Homo sapiens: one gene and its partner. The protein of the gene in region 1 interacts with the protein of each later gene in a biochemical or structural test. Each region holds a gene or a part of one and is shown in the gene's direction. Other genes may lie near its edges. The genes, in order: PCP4 and DAPK1.

Evidence for each region.
Region 2: the proteins of PCP4 (region 1) and DAPK1 form a complex in vitro, tested with the Homo sapiens proteins (one large-scale study listed by BioGRID and IntAct).

The regions. Positions count from the first base shown.
Region 1 is NC_000021.9:39,873,714-39,877,536, forward strand, and holds part of PCP4 (calmodulin regulator protein PCP4), read left to right. Parts: intron 1-3,823. UniProt on the Homo sapiens protein: Functions as a modulator of calcium-binding by calmodulin. Thereby, regulates calmodulin activity and the different processes it controls.
Region 2 is NC_000009.12:87,696,821-87,700,643, forward strand, and holds part of DAPK1 (death-associated protein kinase 1), read left to right. Parts: intron 1-186; coding exon 187-384; intron 385-1,835; coding exon 1,836-1,974; intron 1,975-3,296; coding exon 3,297-3,417; intron 3,418-3,823. UniProt on the Homo sapiens protein: Calcium/calmodulin-dependent serine/threonine kinase involved in multiple cellular signaling pathways that trigger cell survival, apoptosis, and autophagy.

The DNA.
Region 1 (3,823 bases):
AGATATGGGAATGTTCGATAATGGATTGTTTTGTGCCACAAACAAAGCAAGCTTGCCACAGTCATCAATGGCTCAAACCTATAAATGCCACATTCATGTTGGGGCCATTCTACATGAACAATTTAGCATAAGCCACACATTCCAGGCATGGGTCTGCTTGTATATTGTTTATGCCTCACAAAGAGCTCTGAATTTATGCTTCAGAATCTCACTGAATTTACTGCTCATTCCATTTCTGGAAGGGAAACACTTGGCCCATATTTATGACATTGCCAGTAGAAAAATCAATCACCCACTAAATGCCATTATTTTATATTTTACTCTTAACCTGCCATTTTATAAATGAAAGGAAGACAAATTAGACTCATAAAGCAGGAAGGTAATCATCCACAAATTGAACATTTAAGGGCAAGGAAGCAAAAGCTGTGAACTGTTCCAACCATTCAAATAAGGCAATTTTCCTCACAAAGGAGCTAGAATAGAGAGCAGGGGAGTCCCTCTCTTCAAGGTTTCTGCCCTCCATTTTAGGACAGTCTTGGACTTGGATGAGACTAAAACGTCTCCAGCCATACACGAGTCAGACCTCTTCCTCGTAGTTCAAAAGACAACTTTTGAATGTTAAATATTATTTACGACGGTTTGATAGCAAAATGGGATCCAGATTGGCTTGAGATCACGCTATTCCTGGTATAACAATCCAAGTCTGTGGTATAGTGGCATGACAAAAGACACAGTCATCTGTTCCCGTAGCACCACATCTGTGCTTTGGTCAATAATCGAATGAAGTAATGGTTATTTTAATTTTATATGACCTCTGAGAAAAGGACTCCAGAAGTTAACAAGACCCATTAACATGTGTCTTAATCAAATAAGAGTAAAAATATAACAAGGAAACACAGAAACACAAGAGGGAGAAATAATATAATTTCTTCCTTTTTTTTCAAGATCTTTTTTTTTTTTCTAAAAAACAATACAAGCATCTGTTCATCAGGTGGTTAAGTTCTAGTATTTTAAAAAAAAACCTAGTTAAAAGGTTACACCTGCTTTAAAATTTATGATTCTTATGTACAGTAGCTCCCCCTTATCTTCAGATGCCCGGTGAATGGCTGAAAGTGTGGGTGGTACCGAATCCTACACATGCTATGCTTTTTCCATCCGATAATACCTGAAAGTGCTGCTAAGTGGCTACGGGCAGGTAGTGTAGACAGTGTGGATACGCTGGGCAGATGAATGATTCATGTTCTTAGACAGCAAGCGGTTTCATAACGCTACTCAGTAGAGTGTGCAATTTGCAACTTATGAATTGTTTATTTCTGGGATTTTCCATTGAATATTTTTGGACTGTGGTTAGCAGCAGGTAACTCAAACCTCAGAAAGTGAAACCAAGGAAGGTTAAGGGGGAACTACTGTGTGCAATTTCTTTATTAAATAATAGCCACTGTTTCGTTAGGAGTTGTTAGAGAAATATCACTTTTTTTTTTCTTGTACCCAGCAAAATGACTAATTGTATTTAGGGTTTTCTTTTTCAAATTGTAAATTTTCTCACAGTTTTTTTTTTGTTATGCAGAGAAATCTCTGATGCAATGAATGGGTCAAATTTTGAGCTGAGTGTGGCTGTGTGACAGCATCCTGGGTGCTGGTCTCCTCATCTCTGAGGGGTGACAGCATACACACAGACACTGGTGCTGCCACAAGTCTGCCCATGTCCAAGACGGGCGATGGTGTGGAGCCTTCCTTTACAGATCATAACTCTGCATCTTCCAGAGAGTTTTAGGTGGAAATAGCAACAAGCAAAACTTCAAACCATTATGCCATAGTGAGATCTTCTCCTTAAAACAATAAGGGTGACTTGACGTGATTTTATCCTCTTGCCTTCTATGACTTTCCACAATTGTGGTTGCTCTAACAACAACTGTCTGTTTTAGCATATCAATGTTTTGGGAACTATCTTTTCAATCTTCCTGCAGATCCATAACAGAACTATGGAATAGTGTCCACAATGACTAAGGATATCAATACTCCCAAGTTTTTGATAGTGTACCTTAATAGGGAAAAAATTTGACCATGTATACACAACAAATTTTTATTTATTTTACAATTATGTATACATGCGAATATGCCAATATAGTAAGAGTTAATCATTAAAGGAAGGGTAAGGAAATCTGTAATTCCAATAGACTTTTTGGTAACTGTACTTCTTTTTGAGTCTAATTTGATGGCTGAGGTTTTTAAGCTTGTATTGGTGCCCATGAAGACATCCTAAGAAAAGAAGGTTTAGTTAGTGCTTCTATCGTTTCCTTGGTGTTTGTGCTGATGGTGTTAGTATTATTTTCAGTCTATGATTTAATGCAGAATTTTTCAATTAAATCTGAATATATATTTAATTGAAATATATATTAAATATATAGTAAATAATATATATATGATTTACTATTTTAACCACTTTTAAGTGTACAGTTCAGCGGTATTAATTACATTTACACTGTCGTGAAACGGGTCCACAGAACTTGTTCATCTTTCAAAGCCAAGACTCTGCACCCATTCAACAACCACTCTCCATTACCCCGCCCCTATCCTCTGGCAAACCCATTCTATTTCTTACCTCTATCAGTTTGACTACTTTTGGTACCTCCTGTGCGTGGAATCATACAGTATTTGTCTTTTTGTGACTGGCTTATTTTACTTAGCATAATGTCTTCAAGGTTCATCTATGTTGTGGCCTGTGACTATATAGGACATTTTAAAAGCCACTTACCTACTGTGGGAAGATTAGTTTAGTTAAAGGTAGATTGTATAATCTGTAAATCCTCTTAATGGAACATAAGGAACTGCAAGGTATCACATGATGATATTCTGAGAGCAAGTCAACAGGCAGTGTGTCTGGGACAATCTCCCATTGTGGGACTCCTACTCTTTCCTACCCACCAAGTGATGATGTCATTATCAATCCAGATATTAGCTATGAATGAAACCTAATTTTTAAATTGATCTTAGATCCTACACAAATATAAATAGAAATTCTAAAGTCTTCTTTACCATGAGTGTTTGTGGCAGTGAAGCACCTTACAACCCCAGAGGTGCCGTTGACACTGTGGTCTGTGCCAACAGCACTGCCTGGAGTTGTGCTGTGAACAACCTATGCCACTGAACATGGTGGCTCTGCCCTTCCTTGAGTTGATGTCAGCCTGCTTAAGGACGGTTGACCTTGAGAAAGGCTGTCGTTTTTATAGTTCCACTTAGAATTCAGGGAATCAGAGAAGGGCATCGTTGTCATTTCATTCAAAGTGGTCATTTTAAAATAGGGGACTGAGTGTCCAACGATGAATCTTGTGCAGAATCACAGAGCTTCTTCAGAGAAAACCTAAGTTTCCTTTCCACATTTTCCATGCTATTACATTTCTCATTTTCTGGATACAACCTAATTTCTTTTAAACCTGTCCAAATTCCACTTAGGGTTTGCACAAGTAATTTATTAAATTAAAATTGTCCTGAATATTTTTATTAGCCTTGAGTAAAAAAAGAACAGCCACAGAAATCTTGACAAAGCCATTGTTTTGTTCATCAGGTCTTCCACTCTATTTCTAGGGATTCCAGCTTCCACCCTGACACCCCCAGCCTCCCATCCCGTCACACACAGAGAAGCTGAGAAATGTTAATAATGCTTCCCTGTGGAATGTTTCATTAAGACCCTTGTTGGGCATGGTGGCTCACTCCTGTAATCCCAGCACTTTGGGAGACCCAGGTGGGAGGATTGGTTAAGCCCAGGAGTTAGAGACCAGCCTGGGCAACATGGCGAAACCCCGTCTCTACCAAAAATTAAAAA
Region 2 (3,823 bases), on another chromosome or scaffold:
GTGATTTCAATATGAGTTTTAGTGGGGAACAAACCATACCCAAGTCATAACAAGATGTATACACATACAGAAGAATGCCATAAGTATCACTATGCCTACTTCGAATCCGTGGAACGCTAAGAGAATTTATGATTGAAATTTGGTTAGTGGTGTTTCACGATTGTTATCATTTTTCTTTTTCTGTAGGAGTTGGCGATTTCAGCGTGTGGGAGTTCTCTGGAAATCCTGTGTATTTCTGCTGTTATGACTATTTTGCTGCAAATGATCCCACGTCAATCCATGTTGTTGTCTTTAGTCTAGAAGAGCCCTATGAGATCCAGCTGAACCAAGTGATTTTCTGGCTCAGTTTCCTGAAGTCCCTTGTCCCAGTTGAAGAACCCATAGGTGAGCTAAGTCCCTGCAGGCCAGTGATGTCCTACCTGTGGTTGGCCAGGAATCGCCTCCTCCTTCCAGGCTTCTGCCCTGCTCCTGCCACTGCTGCTGCTGGCCTTGCACCAGGCCATGAGCAGATCCCACCGTTTGTGGCTAACAGCTGAGCCAACTTCCTTTCTCCTTCCTGCTGGGAGACTTCCACTCTGAGAAGCTTCATGAGGCTCAAGTGTTCGTGGTATTCTGCAGGCTGTTTTTGTTTCATGATTGCATATTCCTGCCTCAAAGGCCCACTTTGAACAATCCTTTGAGAGGCATTTCTCACTTTTTTTCTACACTTGAGAGCCATGGTCATTGTATGTTGGGTGCAAAATGGAATCCCTGCTTGGATAGCTACTGCACCTTTACCTAAAGGGTACAGAATTAGTCAGCAGAATGAGCAGTTCTTCATCCTGTAATTCCACTAAGAAACAAAGAAAGAGGCCGGGTGCAGTGGTTCACGGCTGTAATCCTAGCACTGTGGGAAGCCAAGGTGGGCAGATGCCTTGAGCTCAGGAGTTCAAGACCAGCCTGGCCCACATGGCAAAACCTCATCTCTACAAAACATACAAAAACTTAGCCAGGTGTGGTGGCATGTGCCTGTAGTCCCAGCTACTTCAGGGGCTGAGGCAGGAGGATTGCTTGAACCTGGGAGGCTGTGGCTGCAGTGAGCCAAGATCGTGCCACTGCACTTAGCCTGGGTGACACAGTGAGACCCTGTCTCAAAAAAAAAGAGAGAGAAATGAAGAAAGGGAGCATGTTGACTGAATGTGTTATCTTAACTTTATTCCTAGAGGAGAGGATAACATGAAATAAACTTCCTTTGGTCTTTGCCCACAACAAGAGAAGCAGCCTTCCCTGGTGAAATGCAATACTCAGCAGTCAATTTTTTTTCTTTCCGGAAAAGCATATAATACAAGGAGTTGGGCTTAATGCCCCTCTGGGTACTGCCAGTTTTGCCTCTTTCTTTGTCCTTTTTTTCCTTTGTTTTAAACACTCCCCGAAGTGGGAGGCTCTTTGTGTGACTTGCAGGTCATTTACCTCTGACCCATCTCTGTGGTGTTGCTGCACTCAGGCGTCTCTCTTTGGTCTTGTAAGCGGCATCCCTTTTGTCACAGGTTAAATTTTCCCTCTCCTTGTAAGTAGGGGCTATTTGGAGACTTGAGAAACTGCCTTTAGTCATTCTGGTCCACTTTGAGCAATTTTCCTTGTGGCCTAGGAGATAGGCTTATCCTGTCGTTGGCCATGCTGGGGCCTTCTAGGGTCACAGTGCACAGCAGGCGTGGGGCCTTCATCTCTGTGGCATGTTGCACTTGTACCTGGAGAGTCGGCCTGGGCATGAGGCCAACACACCGCCCTCACCTGGGCAGGAGAGGCAGCCAGGTAGGAGGACCCACCCCCTGAAGCAGTTCCCTCTCTGCCCCCAGCCTTCGGTGGCAAGCTGAAGAACCCACTCCAAGTTGTCCTGGTGGCCACCCACGCTGACATCATGAATGTTCCTCGACCGGCTGGAGGCGAGTTTGGATATGACAAAGACACATCGTTGCTGAAAGAGATTAGGAACAGGTGAGGGGCAGCCACTTAGTCTCCAGCTCACGGGTAGCCTCCTCTCCCTGAGAACTGAAGCAGAGGTGTGAAAAGTACAAAGGAAGTCTCATGAACCAGAGAAAGGTTTTAAAGGTCTTTCTTTCTTGGTCAACTCTTTTCTTGTACAGGTCTTGTATCCCTTATTGGAAATGATCGGCTTTAGAAGTGTTTCTGATTTCTTATTTGTTTGGATTTTAATATATGTACATATACATAGCAGTTGAACATCCTAGTTCAAAAATTCTAAATCTGAAATGCTCTAATAACCATTTCCTTTGCATGTCTTGTCTTTGCCCAAAAGGTTTTTGGATTTTGGAACATTTCAGATTTCTGGATTAGGGATGCACAACCTTTATTTTTCATTTTTATTAAAACAATGAATCCACATAGTAAATCAAATACAAATGAAGAGCACGTGATGAAAGCAACCCCCTTCTTTCTACCTCCCAGCAACACTGCCCGGAGGTGACTTCTTTTAGCTGTTTAGATTTCAGTACTCAGTATTCAGTGTTCAGAAACACTAATCAGTATGTCTTACAATATAAGTTGCAACCTACTAGTGAGTCTTAAAATTCATTTAGGAAGTCGTGGCCAATTCTTTTTAAAATGGGATGGAATGGAATGGGATAGGATAGGACAGGAAAGGACAGGACAGGATAGGATAGATCAGATGTCAAGTATTATTTTGTAAAACGTTTGTTTCACTGATGAGTATGGGTATGTACAGGATTATGATGTAAAATATATGTTTTTACTCAGAGTCTATCAAAACAGTTTGAACCTGCAGCTTTCTATAATATGCTAGTATCTCTGATCTTGCATTATCAACTTGAGACATTTATCTATTGTCTTGAGACACTATATCTGTTGCCAGATATAAAAATGGGGCTTCTATTAATATTTTTAGGTCAGTGATGTAGCTTTTGCATTCACACCTCTATTCTTAGTCCCTCCACTTTCCACAGTATCTCTTGTCCTCACTTGTAAGGTGCGAGCATTAGGCCTCACCTTTCCTGCCTCGGGAGAAGCTGACATCTTTCCATGCTGTGCTCCTGCTGCTTCATGCAAACCTGAAGGTCCCGCTCCTATGACTCAGACTATATGCCAGTTTCCCCAAGTCTCTGCACCCACTGTGATGAGGCAGAGCCCACCAACAGCAGGGATGGGGAGGGGCCTTTGCAAGGACACCAGAACTTTCCTTCCCTCCTACCAGCCTCTTGAGCCAGTAGGAGCCTGGCCCCTCCATTAAAAGGCCTGGGGACATTGACTCACTGCTGAGGAGGCTGCTGCTCTTCCCTTAGGTTTGGAAATGATCTTCACATTTCAAATAAGCTGTTTGTTCTGGATGCTGGGGCTTCTGGGTCAAAGGACATGAAGGTACTTCGAAATCATCTGCAAGAAATACGAAGCCAGATTGTTTCGGTAAGTACACCATGGAAAGAGCCTGGACCCCTTTGTACTTCCTTCCTGGTTTGCCTCTGGTTTCAGGGAACTGCTTCATAGTAGGACCCAGTAAGAGGTGTCTGCCTGGACATGTCTTTATCCTAGTGCCCTGGGAAAAGAAAGGAAGAATAGAGAAACAAGGAGATGATGGGAGCTGAAGGGTTATTATGGGCAAGGTGGACCACTTCAATTTTATGAAATTCTTACCGATTTATTGGTTTCTTTAACAATATTTTATTTATTTATTTTATTTTTTCAGAGACAGGATCTCACACTGTCATCCAGGCTGGAGTACAGTGGTGTGATCATAGCTCACCGTAACCTTGAACTCCAGGGCTCAAGCAATCTGTCCATCTCAGCCTCCCAAGTAGCTAGGACTATAGGC